Regions from separate parts of the Homo sapiens genome. Here region 2 is linked to region 1. The links come from fine-mapping of genetic effects on gene expression. Tissue or cell type: whole blood. Region 1 holds a variant in brackets; the other region holds the start of a gene. All regions are shown on one strand. Distances are between the middles of the regions.

What was found. PIP is the estimated chance that this variant, and not a neighbour inherited with it, causes the effect.
Region 2: it holds the start of INPP5E, and the variant in region 1 is fine-mapped to the expression of INPP5E in whole blood (TOPMed, PIP above 0.99).

Annotation. Positions count from the first base shown.
Region 1 is chr9:136,489,930-136,497,929 of GRCh38, forward strand. NOTCH1 (notch receptor 1) reads right to left here. Exons shown (of 34, transcript NM_017617.5): 34 at 4,504-7,629. The coding sequence ends at 6,142. Among named protein-coding and RNA genes, the nearest start is that of C9orf163, 10 kb to the left of the region's middle. The variant C/T (reference allele first, on the strand shown) is at 3,465.
Region 2 is chr9:136,435,375-136,443,374 of GRCh38, forward strand. INPP5E (inositol polyphosphate-5-phosphatase E) reads right to left here and starts at 4,471. Exons shown (of 10, transcript NM_019892.6): 1 at 3,234-4,471. The coding sequence starts at 4,045. SEC16A (SEC16 homolog A, endoplasmic reticulum export factor) reads right to left here. Exons shown (of 32, transcript NM_014866.2): 32 at 4,731-6,449. The coding sequence ends at 6,381. RefSeq lists enhancers at 630-1,138, 2,675-3,308, 3,250-3,359, 3,309-3,943, 3,944-4,577 and silencers at 3,650-4,139, 4,200-4,379, 4,430-4,629.

The sequences.
Region 1 (8,000 bases):
GACAGCAGCCGCCAGGTGGAAAGCAAAGACACAAAGCAGCCAGATCGGGAGTCACGTCGGGGCAGGCGACTGAGGCGCCACCCAGCCACCTTCAAGATGCAGATTGAAGAACAGCCTTTCCCAAAGCTCGCTCACTCACTGACCCTGCGTCTTCGTCTGCAAAGCCTGAGTAACGTGGGAGGCCCTGCAACGCCCCCTCTGAGAGACCTCCACTAACGCCAGCACTTTTTTTTTTTTTTTTTTTTTTTTTTTTTTTTTTTGTGAGAGTGTCTTGCTCTGTCGCCCAGGCTGGAGTGCAGAGGCATGATCTCTGCTCACTGCAAGCTCCGCCTCCCAGGTTCACGCCATTCTCCTGCCTCAGCCTCCCAAGTAGCTAGGACTACAGGCGCCTGCCACCACGCCCGGCTAATTTTTTGTATTTTTTAGTAGAGACGGGGTTTCACCGTGTTAGCCAGGATGGTCTCAATCTCCTGACCTTGTGATCCACCCGCCTCAGCCTCCCAAAGTGCTGGGATTACAGGCGTGAGCCACCACGCCTGGCCAACGCCAGCACTTTCAACGCACCGGGACCAAGCTGGACCCGGTTTTGTTTTGAAACACTTTTACTTTTGCAGACGAATACGTCGGTGTCCCACCAGGAACCGCTGCTGGTGGATGCTCACCACGGGAAACAGCCGCGTGACGCTCCCCCTTGTCTGCCTCTGCCCAGTGCTGCCCCCTCCAGCAGAGCTCCTCATGTGTGGTTCGTGGATTTGGGTCCACGATGAGATAAGGAGCCACACAGAACGAAATCAGTCCACCGCTGAGCACGCAGTTGAGCCCCACGGACACCCTTTGCAAGTGAGACTTTTGGGATGAAGGCAGCACAGGCCTGTCGATCCCTGGAGCAGCCCGGGGGCTACGGCACCGTGCTTCCCTCTTGGATGGAGGCAGCCCTGCCTGCCGGGGGCCTGATTTGTGGGCCCTGATGAGTTGGTGCCTCCGGGCTCTTGGGACCCTCCTTTGCTCTATCCAGAGGGACGCAGCGCCACACTCGGGGTTCACGCCGGCAGCGGCGTGGAGTGAGTCACCAGGCTGAAGATACACTTGGTGTTTTCCTGCGCTGGGTGGAACTGTCTGGAGCCCCCTTGGCATCCTGCTGAAGAGTCCGAATCTGGACGTGAGCCTCCTGGAGATACTGAACACCTTTTAAAGTGTGGCCAGGCCCAATCTAGGGTGCTGTGAGTGTACTGTACATCCTGGGTTTCAAAGACACAGTACCAAAAACAAACAAACAAAAAGAATATAAAACATCTCATTCACGGCCGGGCGTGGTGGCTTACGCCTATAATCCCAGCACTTTGGGAGGCCGAGGTGGGCCGATCACGAGGTCAAGAGATCAAGACCAGCCTGGCCAACATGGTGAAACCCCCTCTCTACTAAAAATACAAAAATTAGCTGGGCGTGGTGGCAGGTGCCTGTAATCCCAGCTACTCGGGAGGCTGAGGCAGGAGAATCGCTTGAACCCGGGAGGCGGAAGTTGCAGTGAGCTGAGATCGCACCACTGCACTCCAGCCTGGGTGACAGAGGGAGACTCTGTCTCAAAAAACAAAAAACAACAAAAAAAAACTCATTCACTTTTTATGTTGTGTTAAAATAATATTTTTGATATATTGGATTAACTAAGCTGTAGTATTAATATACACTTTGCCTGTTTCTTTTTACCTTTTTAATGTGGCTACTGAAATATTTAAAGTTGCATATGTGGCCAGGCGCAGTGGCCCACACCTGTAATCCCAGCACTCTGGGAGGCCAAGGTGAGGAGAGGACTGCATGAGCTCAGGAGTTCGAGACCAACCTGGGCAACAAAGTGAGACCCCATCTCTGCAAAAAATAACAAAAAAATTGGGTGGGTGAGGTGGTGTGCACCTGTAATCCCAGCTGCTAGAGAGACCAAGGTGGGAGGATCACCTGGGCCCAGGAGGTTGAGGCTGCAATAAGCTATCATGGCACCACTGCACTCCAGCCTGGGTGACAGAGCAAGACCCTGTCTCAAAAACTTTTTTTAATTAAAAAAAAAAAATAACATATTGAGGTGAGACTCACAGAACCTAAAATTAACCACTTTAAAGTGTACGAGTTAGGCCAGGTGCAGTGGCTCACGCCTGTAACCTCAGCACTTTAAGAGGCCGAGGCGGGTGGATCACTTGAGATCAGGAGTTTGAAACCAGCCTGGCCAACATGGTGAAACCCAATCTCTACTAAAAATACAAAAAAATTAGCCGGGTGTGGTGGTAGGGGCCTGTAATCCCAGTTACTTTGGAGGCTGAGGCAGGAGAATCACTTGAACACAGAGGCGGAGGTTGCAGTGAGCCAAGATCACGCCACCACATTCCAGCCTGGGTGACAGAGCGAGACTCCGTCTCAAAAAAAAAAAAAAAAAGTGTCCGCGTTATTGGCATTTAGTGCACTCGAAGGGCTGTGCACGCACCACCTCTCCCTGGGCCCAGAACATTTGCGTCACTCCAAAGTAAAACCCCGGGCCGTCTTCATCCACGTCCCTACAAAGGACATGAACTCATCATTTTTTATGGCTGCATAGTATTCCATGGTATATATGTGCCACATTTTCTTAATCTAGTCTATCATTGTTGGACATTTGGGTTGGTTCCAAGTCTTTGCTATTGTGAACAGTGCCACAATAAACTAAAACTTAAAGTATAAAAACAAAACAAAACAAAAAAAAACCCCGGGCCGTTTAGCAGCCACTCCCCTTTCCTCCTCCCCCCGGCTCTGGGAACCATCAATCTACTTTCTGTCTCCATGGGTTCGGTGACCACAGGCACCCCATAGAAATGGAGTCACTGCACCTGCGGCCCTTTGCGGCCGGCACCCTTCACTGAGCACCGTGCTTCCAAGGCTTGTCCGCATGGTGGGTGTCAGCGCCTCCTTTTCTACGGTGGAATCATATTCCCTCGTGCGCATTCGTCAGGGTTCTTCCGGCAAGCGGAGCCCATAAGACGTGCCACTGGAGAGGTTATTGCAGGGAATTGGCCACACGACCTCGAGGCCTGCAGTTCCCAGGGTCTGCAGTTGCAGGCAGGAGGCCTGATGGCGTTGCGAGTCCGAAGGCCGGTGGGCTCCAGGCCCAGGAAGAGCCCACGTTTTCAGTCCAAGTCTGAAGGCAGGAAAAGACCAATGTCCAGTGCAAGCGGTTGGGTGGGAGGACCCCTGGCACTCGGCCTATTGTTCTCCCCAGGCCTCAGCGGACCGCACGGGGCCCACCCACACTGGGGAGGGCGGACTGCCTTACCCGGGCTGTGGATGCAAATGCGAACCTCATCCAGAACACCTCAGAGACACACTCCGTTTGGCGAAATGGCCCGGCCAAGCTGACACTAAGGTTCACCGTCACAGCAGACGGTTTTGCTGACCCGTCGTTGGCAGTGGACGCTCAGGCTGTCTGTGGCTGTACTGAGTGATGC[C/T]GGGACAGCAAGTGGCCACGTGCGTTTGTTTGAGTCCCTGTTTTCACTTCTTTCGGACAGACCCCCAGGAGTGGAATTTCAGGGTGCTGGGAGTTTTATGGGCAGGACTCCGGCTGGGTCACCCCCTTTGAAGACAAGAGTCAGGCCACTCACTGCAGTTCCACGGTGGCCCCTCCTGGTCCTGGTGCCCAGCGCTGGCTGGCAGACGCAGCCCCCAGCCATAGTAGAGGCCTCGGGCTCACATCCCTCCTTGGAGAGACTGGGCCCAGGGCAGGCAGTGCTTTGCAATCCAAAGAGGGATCTCAGACTCCCCACCGCTCTGGTTTGAAGCCACTGGCCTGCCCTGAAGGTCTGGGGCTGGGCAGAGGCCCAGGCAGTGGGGAGAGAAGGGGCCCACCCTTGTGTGAGGCTGGCAGCTCTATTCAGGGGCAGGGCCCCAGGACCAGGCCGCCTCTGCCTCGCTCAGCCAGTTCCTTAGGATCACACAACTTTCCAGACTCTGCCACGACCCATGCTGCCCTGCTCATAGGCTTCGACAGCTCCCTTTGCCCTCCTATAGGGGCCAGAGTCCTCCCTGTGGTCTCCAGCCCGTAGAGGGGTCATGCCACTGCCTCAAGGCCCTCCCTATGCAGCCCCCTGCCTGCTGCAGAGCTCCCTGAGGGGCTGTCCCCAGGATGGCTGGGTGGGACCTTCATCCCTCCGAGGCTGAGAGGAGAAGAGCCCCGAGCTGCCAGGAGGGCCAGACTCACGCATGGTGTCCTGGGAGCCGTGTCACCCCAGGCACGAGCCCCACCTCCCATAGGGCTGCAACCCCCTTGCTGCTGTGTGTCCATCTCCCTACAAAGGGCCTGGACCAGGCAGGCTGCAGACACCATGGAGTCCCTGGAGGCAGCGTGGTCCCCACACCCCCGTGGGCCAGGACTAGGCAGCCTCACCGTCACTCTCCCAGCAGAAGGGGCCCTCGACTCCTGGCTCCCTCAGAGCATAGCAGCCCTGCCTCCCTCCCAGAAAGGGAGCCAAAGGCCAGAGCAGAGGGGAGTGGAAGCCAGATCACCATCAGTATCATTTTTATTGCAAATCAGTTAACAAAAAAGATGAAAAAAATACATCATCTACAGTTCCTCATGTAGATCACTTTTAAAGTCTTTTTCTGTAAACTACACTCTATTTTATAAAACACAGTAAAAATCAACATCTTGGGACGCATCTGGTCATGCCCCCTGGGGATGGCACCACGCGGCCCCCGTAGAGCCGGGGGAGGCTGCCCTGAGGAGTGCAGGCGGCACGGCAGCGGAGCGTCCCCAGTGCATGGGCGGCTAAGGCTCCCCGAGCTGAGCCAAGTCTGACGTCCCTCACTGGCATGACACACAACAGACTCATTCATTAAGATTTTTTAAACAAAATCCACCTTTAAAAACATATTTACAGACATTTTTTCTGCCATAGGCTATACTTGGTATTGCAAAAATCTGCTCCTCCCAAACTAGGAGGGGTGGCCCAAGGGCAGCCCCCGCCTCCCTCCAGCCCCTGCCCGACCGCATGCCCCCTGCCAGGGCTGCGGGGACAGGACCAAAGGACGCAGCCCACGGCGTTGCACAGCTCAATGTGCCCGGCTCTGGCAAGTCTCCTACAAAACACGGGAGCCCACGGGGGGTCGGGTCCCGCGAGCTGGGGCCCAGGCTGTGTTGCTGGAGCATCTTCTTCGGAACCTGGGGGACACTGTGCAGGCTGAGGTGCTGGGGCCGCCACCGGGGTCAGCCCAGGCAGTGTCTTTCCCCAGAAAAGGGTAGGATGCCTCCGTGTGTGACCCAGGCAAGTGCCACAGTCCACACATCTCATGTTTGACATGCATGATGCCTACATTTCAAGAACGGGCAGGGGGCCGGGGTGGTTCTGGAGGGACCAAGAACTTGTATAACCAACGAACAACTACATAATACTGAACCTGAAACAAAGATTCATGATTGGTACCATGGGTGCACTCTTGGCATACACACTCCGAGAACACATTTTCACAAGCATGCTTGCAAGAAACCATCTAAAACACATGGCAACATCTAACCCATATGCTTTCACTTGTTTCCTATTTCAGATGCAAATTAATCCGCGTGCGGAAGGTGAGCCAGCTTTGCCTCCGTTTGCCTCTGGATGCAGCTTCTCCTAACAGGCAGGTGATGCTGGTGGAGCGGCCGGGCTGGCTTGGGGTTGGGTGGGCGTCGGGGAAAGGGCGCGGCCTGGACGCCCCAGGAGCTTTTTGGACTATGCTCGTTCAACTTCCCTTCTCCAACATCATTTCTTTTTGGATTTTGAAAAAAGGAATCAATAAATAAATGGCATTTATAAATCATGAATCTTTGTTTATATTTTATAAACACAGAAGAATCTTTTCATCCTACGTAGGAAAACCCTGGCTCTCAGAACTTGCTTGTTTTCTCAGAATAGATAAAAGTTTCTACCTGGGGCCAGATAAAACAGTACATATAAATAAAAAGGCAGTGTTTCTGTGTAAAATAAAAGTACATAAATAAATACTAAAAAAAATTAAAATCCTCGTTCTTATTTTGTATAAAAACATGTGTTTTAAAAAGGCTCCTCTGGTCGGCCCTGGCATCCACAGAGCGCACACAGACGCCCGAAGGCTTGGGAAAGGAAGCCGGGGTCTCGTGGGGCGCGCCGTTTACTTGAAGGCCTCCGGAATGCGGGCGATCTGGGACTGCATGCTGGTGGGAGGGCTGGAGACGCCCTCGGACCAGTCGGAGACGTTGGAATGCGGGGACGAGCTGGACCACTGGTCAGGGGACTCAGGGGACGGGGTGAGGAAGGGGTGCTCAGGCACCTGTAGCTGGTGGCTGGGGGTGTTGTCCACAGGCGAGGAGTAGCTGTGCTGCGAGGGGGGCGTCAGGAACTGGGCTGCGGTCACGGGTGGGACCAGCGAGGATGGCAGCGACGTGGGCAGGGCGGGGCTCTCCTGGGGCAGAATAGTGTGCACCGCCAGGCTGCTGGGGCCCAGTGGCTGCACGTCTGCCTGGCTCGGCTCTCCACTCAGGAAGCTCCGGCCCAGGTGGCCGCTGGCTGCTGAGCTCACGCCAAGGTGCGGCTGTGGTGGTGGTGGTGGCGGCTGCAGGCTTTGCTGCTGCTGGATGTTTGCTGGCTGCAGGTTCTGCTGCTGCATCTGTAAGTTTTGTGGCTGCACCTGCTGGGTCTGCACCAGGTGAGGCTGGGTGGCCAGCCGGGTGCTGGGCAGGCCCTGGTAGCTCATCATCTGGGACAGGGCGCTGGCAGCAAGGCTACTGTGCAGCGGGCCTACCATGCCATGCTGCAGGGAGGGGGCCTGTGTGCTCAGGGGGCCTGGTGCCACACTCCCCCGCAGAGGGTTGTATTGGTTCGGCACCATGCCGCTCTGCAGCCGGGACAGCCACTCGCATTGACCATTCAAACTGGTGGACCCGCCCACAGTGAAATTCAGGGCCCCTCCGCTGCTGGAGCCCAGGACGGTGCTGGTGCCAGAGGCCACAGGCAGGTGGGAGAGACGAGGTGGGCCAGTCTCAAAGGCCAGCCGGCCGCCCCCACCCAGCGCCGCCATCTCGGGCTTGGCCGCCACGTTCAGGTGCCCGATGCCCAGGTGGGTGTCGGGCATCCCAGGCAGGTGGTTGAGGGGCACGGACGGAGACTGCTGGAACGGGGAGGGCAGCAGTGGCGGCGAGGCCACGTCTGACAGGTAGCCATGGGGTGACTCCAGGGAGTCCACGGGCGAGAGCATGCCGGAGCTGTCCAGCAGGCAGCCCTTGCCGTCCTGGGACTTCTTCCTCCGTGCCTTGAGGTCCTTGGCCTCCTTGCTTCCACAGGCCAGGCCTTTGCTGCTGGGCTTGCGGACCTTCTTGCCCTGCACGCCGGGCTTGAGGCTGCCCAGGTAGCCGTTGGGCGAGCAGAGCGGGGGCGACAGGGTGGGCGTGCCCCCCAGCGGGGCTCCGTGCAGCTGCGGGCTGCGCACCAGGTTGTACTCGTCCAGCAGCCTCACGATGTCGTGATGCATGCGCTCCTGTGCGATGTCGCGCGGCAGGCGGTCCATATGATCCGTGATGTCCCGGTTGGCAAAGTGGTCCAGCAGCACCTTGGCGGTCTCGTAGCTGCCCTCCCGGGCGGCCAGAAACAGGGGTGTCTCCTCCTGGGGGATGAGGGCGGGGGCCGGTGAGGGGGGCCAGGCCAGGCGTGGGGACCCTCCCCAAGGTTCCATCACCAGAGGAAGCAGCAGTACAACCTCCTCCGCGGGGTGGGGGCAGGCAGGCTGCTCCTCAGGACCCCACCCCAGCGTCCTGCAACCACCTAGCCTGACTCTTGTTAAATGTTAAGGCTTTGATACATCTTCTGAAACCCACCCAGAGAGGGGATCTGTGCAGTCCTCTACCCTAGATCAGCGGGGCTCCACCTCTATGGGGGGGTCACAGACCCCACTGAAAATCTAACCAACTGCAGGCCCTCTTCCCTGCCCCCAATAAGGCACAAAAGGAAATTCCTGGAGCGGTTCAGAGGCACCGG
Region 2 (8,000 bases), 55 kb before region 1:
TCTCACTCCGTGCCCAGGCTGGAGTGCAGTGGCACTAACACAGCTCCCTGCAGCCTCTACCTCCCGGGCTCAAGTGATCCTCCTGCCTCAGCCTCCCGAGTAGCTGGGACTCCAGGTGCAGTGCCACCACGCCCGGCTAGTTATTTATTTATTTTTTATTTTTGTAGAAACAGGGTCTCGCCACGTTGTCCAGGCTGATGCTTTCAGATTTTAATACGGCGGTGCACACAGATGGTTAAACACCGTGTGGCACAGCAACGTCCCTGCCCCTCCCCACACTCAGCACCTTCTGCCACGAGGGCTGGTAACCCGTCAAGAGGCAACCGCACACGCCTGCCGCTCCGTGGGACATCCAGTGTCTGTCGCCGTGGGCTCTGCTACGGTGGTGCAAGAGCCACCAGGGGATGTGGACACAAGGGGTGCAGCCGTGTGCCCGAGACGCTTGATTTACAGACACTGAAATCTGAATTTTACAATTTTCTTGTACTATGAAACATCATTAGAATGGTTTTGACTTTTTCCAACCATTTGGAAATGTAAAACCCGTTCTCAGCTCGCCGACTATACAGAAACGCCGTGGGCTAGGCTTGCCAGCCGTCCTCCCCGCTCCCTCTCTAAGTAACACTTGTGCGGCTCCTTCTGGATACGCCGTCTTCTGACATGGTTCCCTTCCGCAAGGGGACACGAGAGCATAGTGCCGGATTCCTGTGACCTCCCGCGAGAACTTCTTCAACCCTGGCTGCGGCTCACCAAGCTTCACTGGACACGTTAAATCATGTCAGCAGGGAGGAACCTCGCTACCTCACCCCTAAAACTGTCGACAATCCCGGTCGGGACAGCTGTGTTCACACAGTGGTCATTCGGGACAGAGAGCGTTCCTGTGGGCACCCCTGTCAAGTGATCCCGGGCCCAGCAGGGGCTCCTCGGTCACCAGGCTGGAGGCCCACGGCCCCTTTGCCGGCAGCGCCCATCATGTCCACACCAGCAGCCACGTGGTCAGTCTGCCCAGCTCTGTCCAGAGCATGGTTAGTAACAGCAGGCCAGGGGCGGCCCTCACAGCCATTCCTGTGTCTAGACACGGGCAGGGGCAGAGCTGCCTCGGACCCCCATCCAGGGCCAGGACACTGCACAGCTTCTGCATGAGGACGCTCAGGCTGGCTGCCACAGCCTGGGCCAGCTCTCCGAGCAAAAGGAACGGGTGGGGAAAGGCCCCCTAACCCGCCCTGGCAGCCCCAAGGCACTGGCAAAAGCCAGCAGCCATTCTCAAACAGGGCGGACCCAGCCCGTGCACACGCGGCCCGCAAACTCAGAATGGGTTTTACTGTGTGGAACGGCAGAGAAAGAAAAAAGAGCGAGGTTCCAATGTATGTCCCTAATAGACTCACTGGCACACAGACGCCCTTTGGTCCCCACTGTCTGTGTCTCCCCCTTGACAGAAAGAGTGCGCCGACTCCTATTCTAGAACAGACCGGAGGTCTGGAAATGGGAAGCTGTTAGGCAGCAGAACTGGGTTAAAGGATCCACGTCAACCCTCGTTTCCTGGTTGTTTGAAAACAATGACTTGAGGGTCCAAATTTGAGACACGACTGTCCTTTTCTCTAACAGGTGTATCTACGTCAACCGGATCTAATTTTAAAATGTGATGCTTTAGATGCACTAAGAAATCTCACTCTTTACGAGAAGCCCTGCAGTGAATTATTTTAACAAAAGCAGCAGTCTTGCCCTGGATGTGATCGCACCTGCTCCATCCATGACAGGAGGAGAGTATGGTGGGGGCGCCAGGCACGGGCCCTCACTCCAGGCCTGAGCCCACCTGCCTGCTGGTGCACCACAGACGCGGGGAAGTGAGGCTACCTTCGGGGACTGTGGTGAGCTGAACAGTGATCCCCAAAGCCATGTCCACTCCCAGAGCCCCAGAACCTTGGAATGGGACCTTATTCGGAAACGGGGTCTTTGCAAACGTGTTTAATTAAGGATCTCGAGATAAGACCACCCTGGATTTAGGGTAGGCAGTAAATTCAATGACTGGTGTCCTTATAAAAAGAGAGGGGAACACAGAGAGACAGGGAAGAGGCCACATAAAGACAGAGGCAGAGACTGGAGCATGCGGCCACAAGCCAAGGAACAAGTGGGGCCCCAGGAGCGGGAGGCAGCGGGAGGACCCTCCCCTGAGCCTCTGGAGAGAGGCTGCGTGGCCACACCTTGATTTTAGACTTCTGGCCTCTAGAACTGGGAGAGAGTCCAGCTCTGCTGTTGCAAGCCTCCCAGTCTGTGGTCATGAGTTACAACGGCCCCAGGACACCAACACAGAAACCACCTCACACCTCTCCCTTCTCACACCTGTCCTGCCTCCCGCCGCGGCTGACAGACAAGACTTGGGCACCATGGCAGTGGGGTGGGGGGAGGAAAAGAAGGGTGCAGGTGACTCTGCCAAGTCATAGTGGGAGCATCTCAGGACAGGCCCCCAGACTGAGACCCCAAGACAAGACCAGGCTTGGGAGAGGTCATGGGTTCAGCTGCAGTTCCTTCCAGCAACAGCTGGAGCCCACCAAAATGTTCCTCATGAGCAAGTGGCTAAACGAAAGTAGCCTCAACACATCTGGGGCCTCTTGCCGCAGAAAAAAACAAAGGGGGCAGGCCGGGCGCAGTGGCCCACGCCGGGAATCCCAGCACTTTGGGAGGCCGAGGCCAGGAGTTCGAGACCAGCCTCGCCAACACGGCGAAACCCCGCCCCTACTAAAAATACAAAATTTAGCTGGGTGTGGTGGCGGGCGCCTGTAATCCCAGATTCTCAGGAGGCTGCGGCAGGAGGATCCCTTGAACCCAGGAGGCAGAGGTTGCAGTGAGCCGGGATCGCGCCGCTGCACTCCAGCCTGGGCGACAGAGAGAGTAACAAACAAAAACAACCAAAGGGGCGGATCGTATACATTGACGACATTTCCCAAGACTAAACAAGAAAAAGCGCCAGATACGTAATTGTATGCAGGATGCCATCCTGTCTACCTTAACACAACGTCACGCCCACGAATGGTTCTGAAACGCACAGGAAAAGTTCTGGGAAGGGCGCTGCTGTGGGGTGGGGCTGGGAGATGGGGTGGCTGCGGGAGACCCGCTTCGTTCTTTCCGGTTAGGCATCTTAAACGCTGCTGATGGGAACGGTCTCACGAGGTTCCAGCAGCCTGAACACTACAACGAAGGCGGCGCGGGCGCTGCACCCGCCAGGCCCTCCCTACCTGCTGCGGACGTCCTTGCTGCGGATGGGCGCCAGGAGGCTGAAGGAGGATTTGGCCGAGCGAAGGGAACAGTCGTCGCAGGCCAGGGGGCTCCGCGGCCGGCCGGGGCCCAGGCTGCTGTGGGCCCGCACCAGGAGCGGCTGCGCGCGGAGCTTGTAGTCTGCAAGATCCGAGTCGACCTTGTTTGCTGTCCTCAGGGAGTCGGAGGCGATGTCCAGGCTCAGGGCAGGCGGTGGGCGCGGGGGCAGCAGGCTGGGCAGCCTGGGCGAGCTCCCCGCCACGGCGGCGTCTCTGTGCGGGAGGTTCGGGGAGCTGCTGGCCACCCCAGAGAGAGGGTTACCCCCCGAGGACGGGCTCCCTCTCTCACTGCTCAGGACCCCGCGGGACTTGGGGATTTCCTGCAAGGAGGTGCTCAGGCAGGGCGGGGAGCAGCTGTGGGCGGGGGCCCCGGGGCCCTCGCTCTGCACTGAGCCCCTGGAGGGACTGGTCCCATTCCGGGCTTCCAGGTCCTCCTGGCTGCCTCGAAAACGCCTCCTCCTCCAGCCCTTGTCGTCCAGGGACAGGGCTCGCTCCAGTCGAGGCCTGGCGGGGGGCCGCGGGGCGATGGGTGCTGCTCGGGCTGGCGGGTCCTCGCCGCTGGGCGTGGCCGGAGTGCTGCAGGCAAGCGCGGGGCTCTCGGAGCCCGGAGCATCGGGTGGGGACCCCGCGCGCTGGGCCGGCGGAGCGCCGGGAAGCTGTCCTTGGAGCGTCCTCCCTTCCGGCGGCTGCGGGGCCGGCTCGGAGGGCCGCAGATTCTCCGCCTTGGACGGCATGGACGGTCTCTCCCGGGGCAGGCCTCGGCGCGAGGCCGCAGGCAGCGCGAGGGGTCACGGGTGCCGGGTCCGGGGTCGCCGGCGCAGCGAGGAGCAGAAACGCCGCTGCGGCTCCCGCTTGGGCCGGGGATGGTCGCGGAGGGGCGGGGGCGGCTGCCGCATGGCCCGGGCCCCGAGTCCCGCCAGCCCCTCGGGGCTCCCAGACGCCGTTCCCAGGGCGGTCCGCAGGCAAGGCCTGGGGGAACAGGCGGCTGGGCGCCTGTCGCGGGGGAGGTTCGACCCCGACGGGGACGCCGCTCGGGGAGAGGGGTGGGAAGCGGGCACCCCTGGCTGGGCTCGCAGACTCCGAAGTCGACCCGGTACTCGCGGAGGCCCGGCCGCCCAGAAGCGGAGTCAGCCCGGCCGGGACCCAGCAACCGCCGCCGCGGGGCCGCGCCCGGTCCCCGCCCCGCGCCCCGGCCCCGCCCACAGCGGCCCCTGGCGGCCGGAGGACTGCGCCGCACCGGACCCGGACGGGTCTCCCACGCCCCTCCCAACCCGGCAGCCCCGCAGTCCGGCAGGTCCCAGCGAGGCAGGTGCAGGTCCCCGGAGAGGACCTGGGTGCGGTCCAGGACAGCGCCGAGGCCTGCGGACACCTGCACTCACTCGCTTCCAGCAAACCAAAGGGAACCACAGGTGAAGGTGCTTGAAGGAGCGCAAAATATTTTATTCAACAATTTGCAATGTAACAATTCTCATTTAGGAAAAATAGCCGCTCCCGCCTGGAGGAAGCTTCTTGAATCAAAAGTCGTGGCAGTCGACCCCAGAACAGCGGGCAGAGCCGACCGGAAGAGGTCCCAGGATTCACACGAGCTGACCGAGGGACAGAGAGGGCTGCCCCGTCACAGGGACTGGCCTTTCTCCAAGTGACAAGGACAAATGGATCCAGCGGGACACGCCTGTGGAACATTTTGGAAAACATCCTGGGTGGTCTGGGCTAAATGATCAAGTGAAACAGAAAGCCAGGAAGGATCTGTGCTAATTCCACATTCTACAATTTCTACACTTAAATTTAAAACACCAAACAGTTTGTATTCCTCCAGCAGAACCTACAGAAATTATCTACTGATTTTTATTAGTATTTAAATCTTTTCTTCAGTCTCTTTAGACTTGACAAGAATACGAAGAGTTTCAGAACAGTCAGAGAAGCCTTAAAGCTTTGCATCAGTGAGAGGAGGCCCGTCTCTGAGTTGAACAGGGTTGAGTCCACCAGGAGCTACTCAAAGTCTCAGTGTGGCAAAACTCGGGGCAGAAATACTAAGTTCCAGAGCTGCTGTCAAGAAACTGTGTTAAGATACTCTCCCCAAGTGCTACCAACCTCTGAACCAACGTCCCCCAGGGGAGAAAGTGGGTCATGTGGATTGTACCACGAAAAGTGCTCACGGAAAGTGCAGCCTTTTAGAGAAGTGCATCCAGCTTCCTTAACAGTGAGTCTAACCGTGCTCCTACACACGAAATGAAGCCCAAATCAAACATCACACGGTCAGTTTTCAACCTGGATGACCACCCTGAGCCATCATGTCAGACAGCCGGCTCTCTGGGGCTCCTTCCCAGTGACTGGGCCACACGGTGGGCAGTCCCCAGCGCTTTGGGTACACAAAATCACCCATGGTCCTCATCAGGCCACAGAAAGTAAAGTGAGGCTGGAAGCGTCTTTGCAACAGGAAAGAAATTCACTGCAGTAACTAAGGCCTCTCTCAAAAACCGTGAACTAATGCCGAAGGAACCCCACGGCTCCTCGGAGGCGCTGATTGAGAACACAGCGCCCTCCACTCATTCAGCCAGGTTCAAACACGGCGAGGGCCCAGATGGTGCAGAGCAGGGGTTGGGGTCTGCCTCAGTCACCCTCTCTTTGCTCCCAGCACCTTAAAGGAAGCGCGGGACTCACTGGGCAGTGACTCACAGCTGGGCTTGGAGAGGCCCTGGTTACTACCGACCATGTGGCTCTCCTGTGGCAGAGACAGCTCCGGCTTCAATGAATGAACATTCTTAAATGACCAGGAATACTATATCCTTAAATCATCCTAAATGACTAAGAAAGTCACATCATTCTTTTCGGCAAACAATTCTGAGTCAAAGATTCAGTCTTTCCATCCAGAATCTGAAAGGATGGTGGAATTAATTTTCAAAATAATTCATTACGATGGGCGGTGAGGAGGGAGGCACAGTGTGCGACCAGCTCTGAGTCACTGCTGTGTCTCCCTGGGGGCGGGACGGAGATCGCGGAGGTCGGTCGGGTTCTTCGGGGAGAACAGCAGCGTCAGGGCTCCAAGTGCAAGTTCACAGCAGGGCAAGCCTAGTTCAGCACCAGGTGCTTCCTCTGGCCAATCCTCCCTAGCCTTGAGCTCCCGGAGGTGGCGCAGGCCTGGAATGAAATCAACAGCATGACCTCTGCATGCCTGCCCCCAGGGTGAGCAGTGCTCGGCTGCAGCGTGGCAGGGGCTGGTCCACATAATGAACCACACGGGCCATTGGCGCTGACAAGCTGAAGGCTTCGTTTTTGTTTCCAAAAGCCTCTGGAAACCGACAAGTCAGTGCCAAGTCCTGGGCTCCCTTGAAAGCACTGTATCCTTAACCATCAATGTTTACTGTGAGGGTGGCCAGGAGGTGCCGTGGTTTCATCAGGGCCATGAGACCTGGAGCTGCTCTGCAGAGCCAGCCTGGCTGTCCAGAGTCCAGGGACAAGTGGTGGCCAGGCCTGGCCTACTGCATGGGACGCGGGGACCTCAGTTGCAGACAGCTGGCCAATGCAGGCATCCACTCTTGCTCCCTCGCAAAGCCTCATGGAGGGGAAAGCCAAGGAATTTTTGTAAAGGCACTAACCACATGGTAAAGGGAGCAGGACAATACCAAAATCGACTAGTCTGGATGCTGAAAAGCAGGTGACAGCCAGGGGCCAGCTTGGGGGCAGTGGTCCTGGGAGCCTCGGCCTCGTTTGTAGAGGACCAGGGCAGGAGTGCTGGGCCCCAGCCCAGGAAGCCTGCAGTCAAGAGTGTGTGAGGCTGTGAGGGCAGGCTGGGGTGACAATGGGGCTGAATCCCAAGAGGCCCCAGACCTTGGACCCCGCTCAGCTCCCCTACACTGGCAGCCAGTCTATACTCCACAGGCAAGGGAGAGGGGAGGAGAGACGAGGCTGAGGGAGGGAAACCACAGGAAACATTCTAGAACACTCCCCAGCTGAAGGGCATGCAGTCAGGCCCAAGGGGGCTGAGGGTGAAGCCCTCCAGGTCCCAGGGAAACGGACCCTGAAAGGGGCTGCAGGCAGAACGGCCCTGGGGTCTCAGCAACCACAGGCAGCAGGAAACCTAAGGCCACTTGCAGTTCTGAAGAAAGTGACTTTGGCCCAAGAATTCTACCAGCCAGCCAGATAGGCCGGAGGAGAAAGGCAGCTCCAGACGTGAAAGGCATCTCCCAAGTCACCCTGGGACCTTTCTGTCAAGAAGCTATTAGGAAAAAGAAATAAAAAACATACAAAAAAAGCAAGAGCTACCAGAGGATGTGTGTCACCAAGACAAACAGAGTAACTAAGAAAGGCAGCAACATAGGATTCCAAAGCTGGGGGACCCACTCCGGGGAGACCCGGGTGCCCGGGCCAAGGGAGGAGAGATCACGCTCGGCTCAGAGACCACGGGCTCCAGGAGAACAGAATAGCAGACGTGGCAGAGCTGGGGGCTGAATGAGGGATACACAAGTAGAAAGCCAAGCACATTTTACAAACTACAACCTAGGAAAAGGCAAAGCGAATACAGGAGCACGGAGGGCCTCGTGTCGACAGAGCTCCACACGGGAGCACGGCGGGCCTGGTGTCCACGCAGAGCTGAGCACGGTGGGCCTGGTGTCCACACAAAGGGAGAAATGGCAGCCGGGGAGGGCCCAGCCTGGCTCCTCACAGTGCCCTGTGGACTGCCACCCAGTA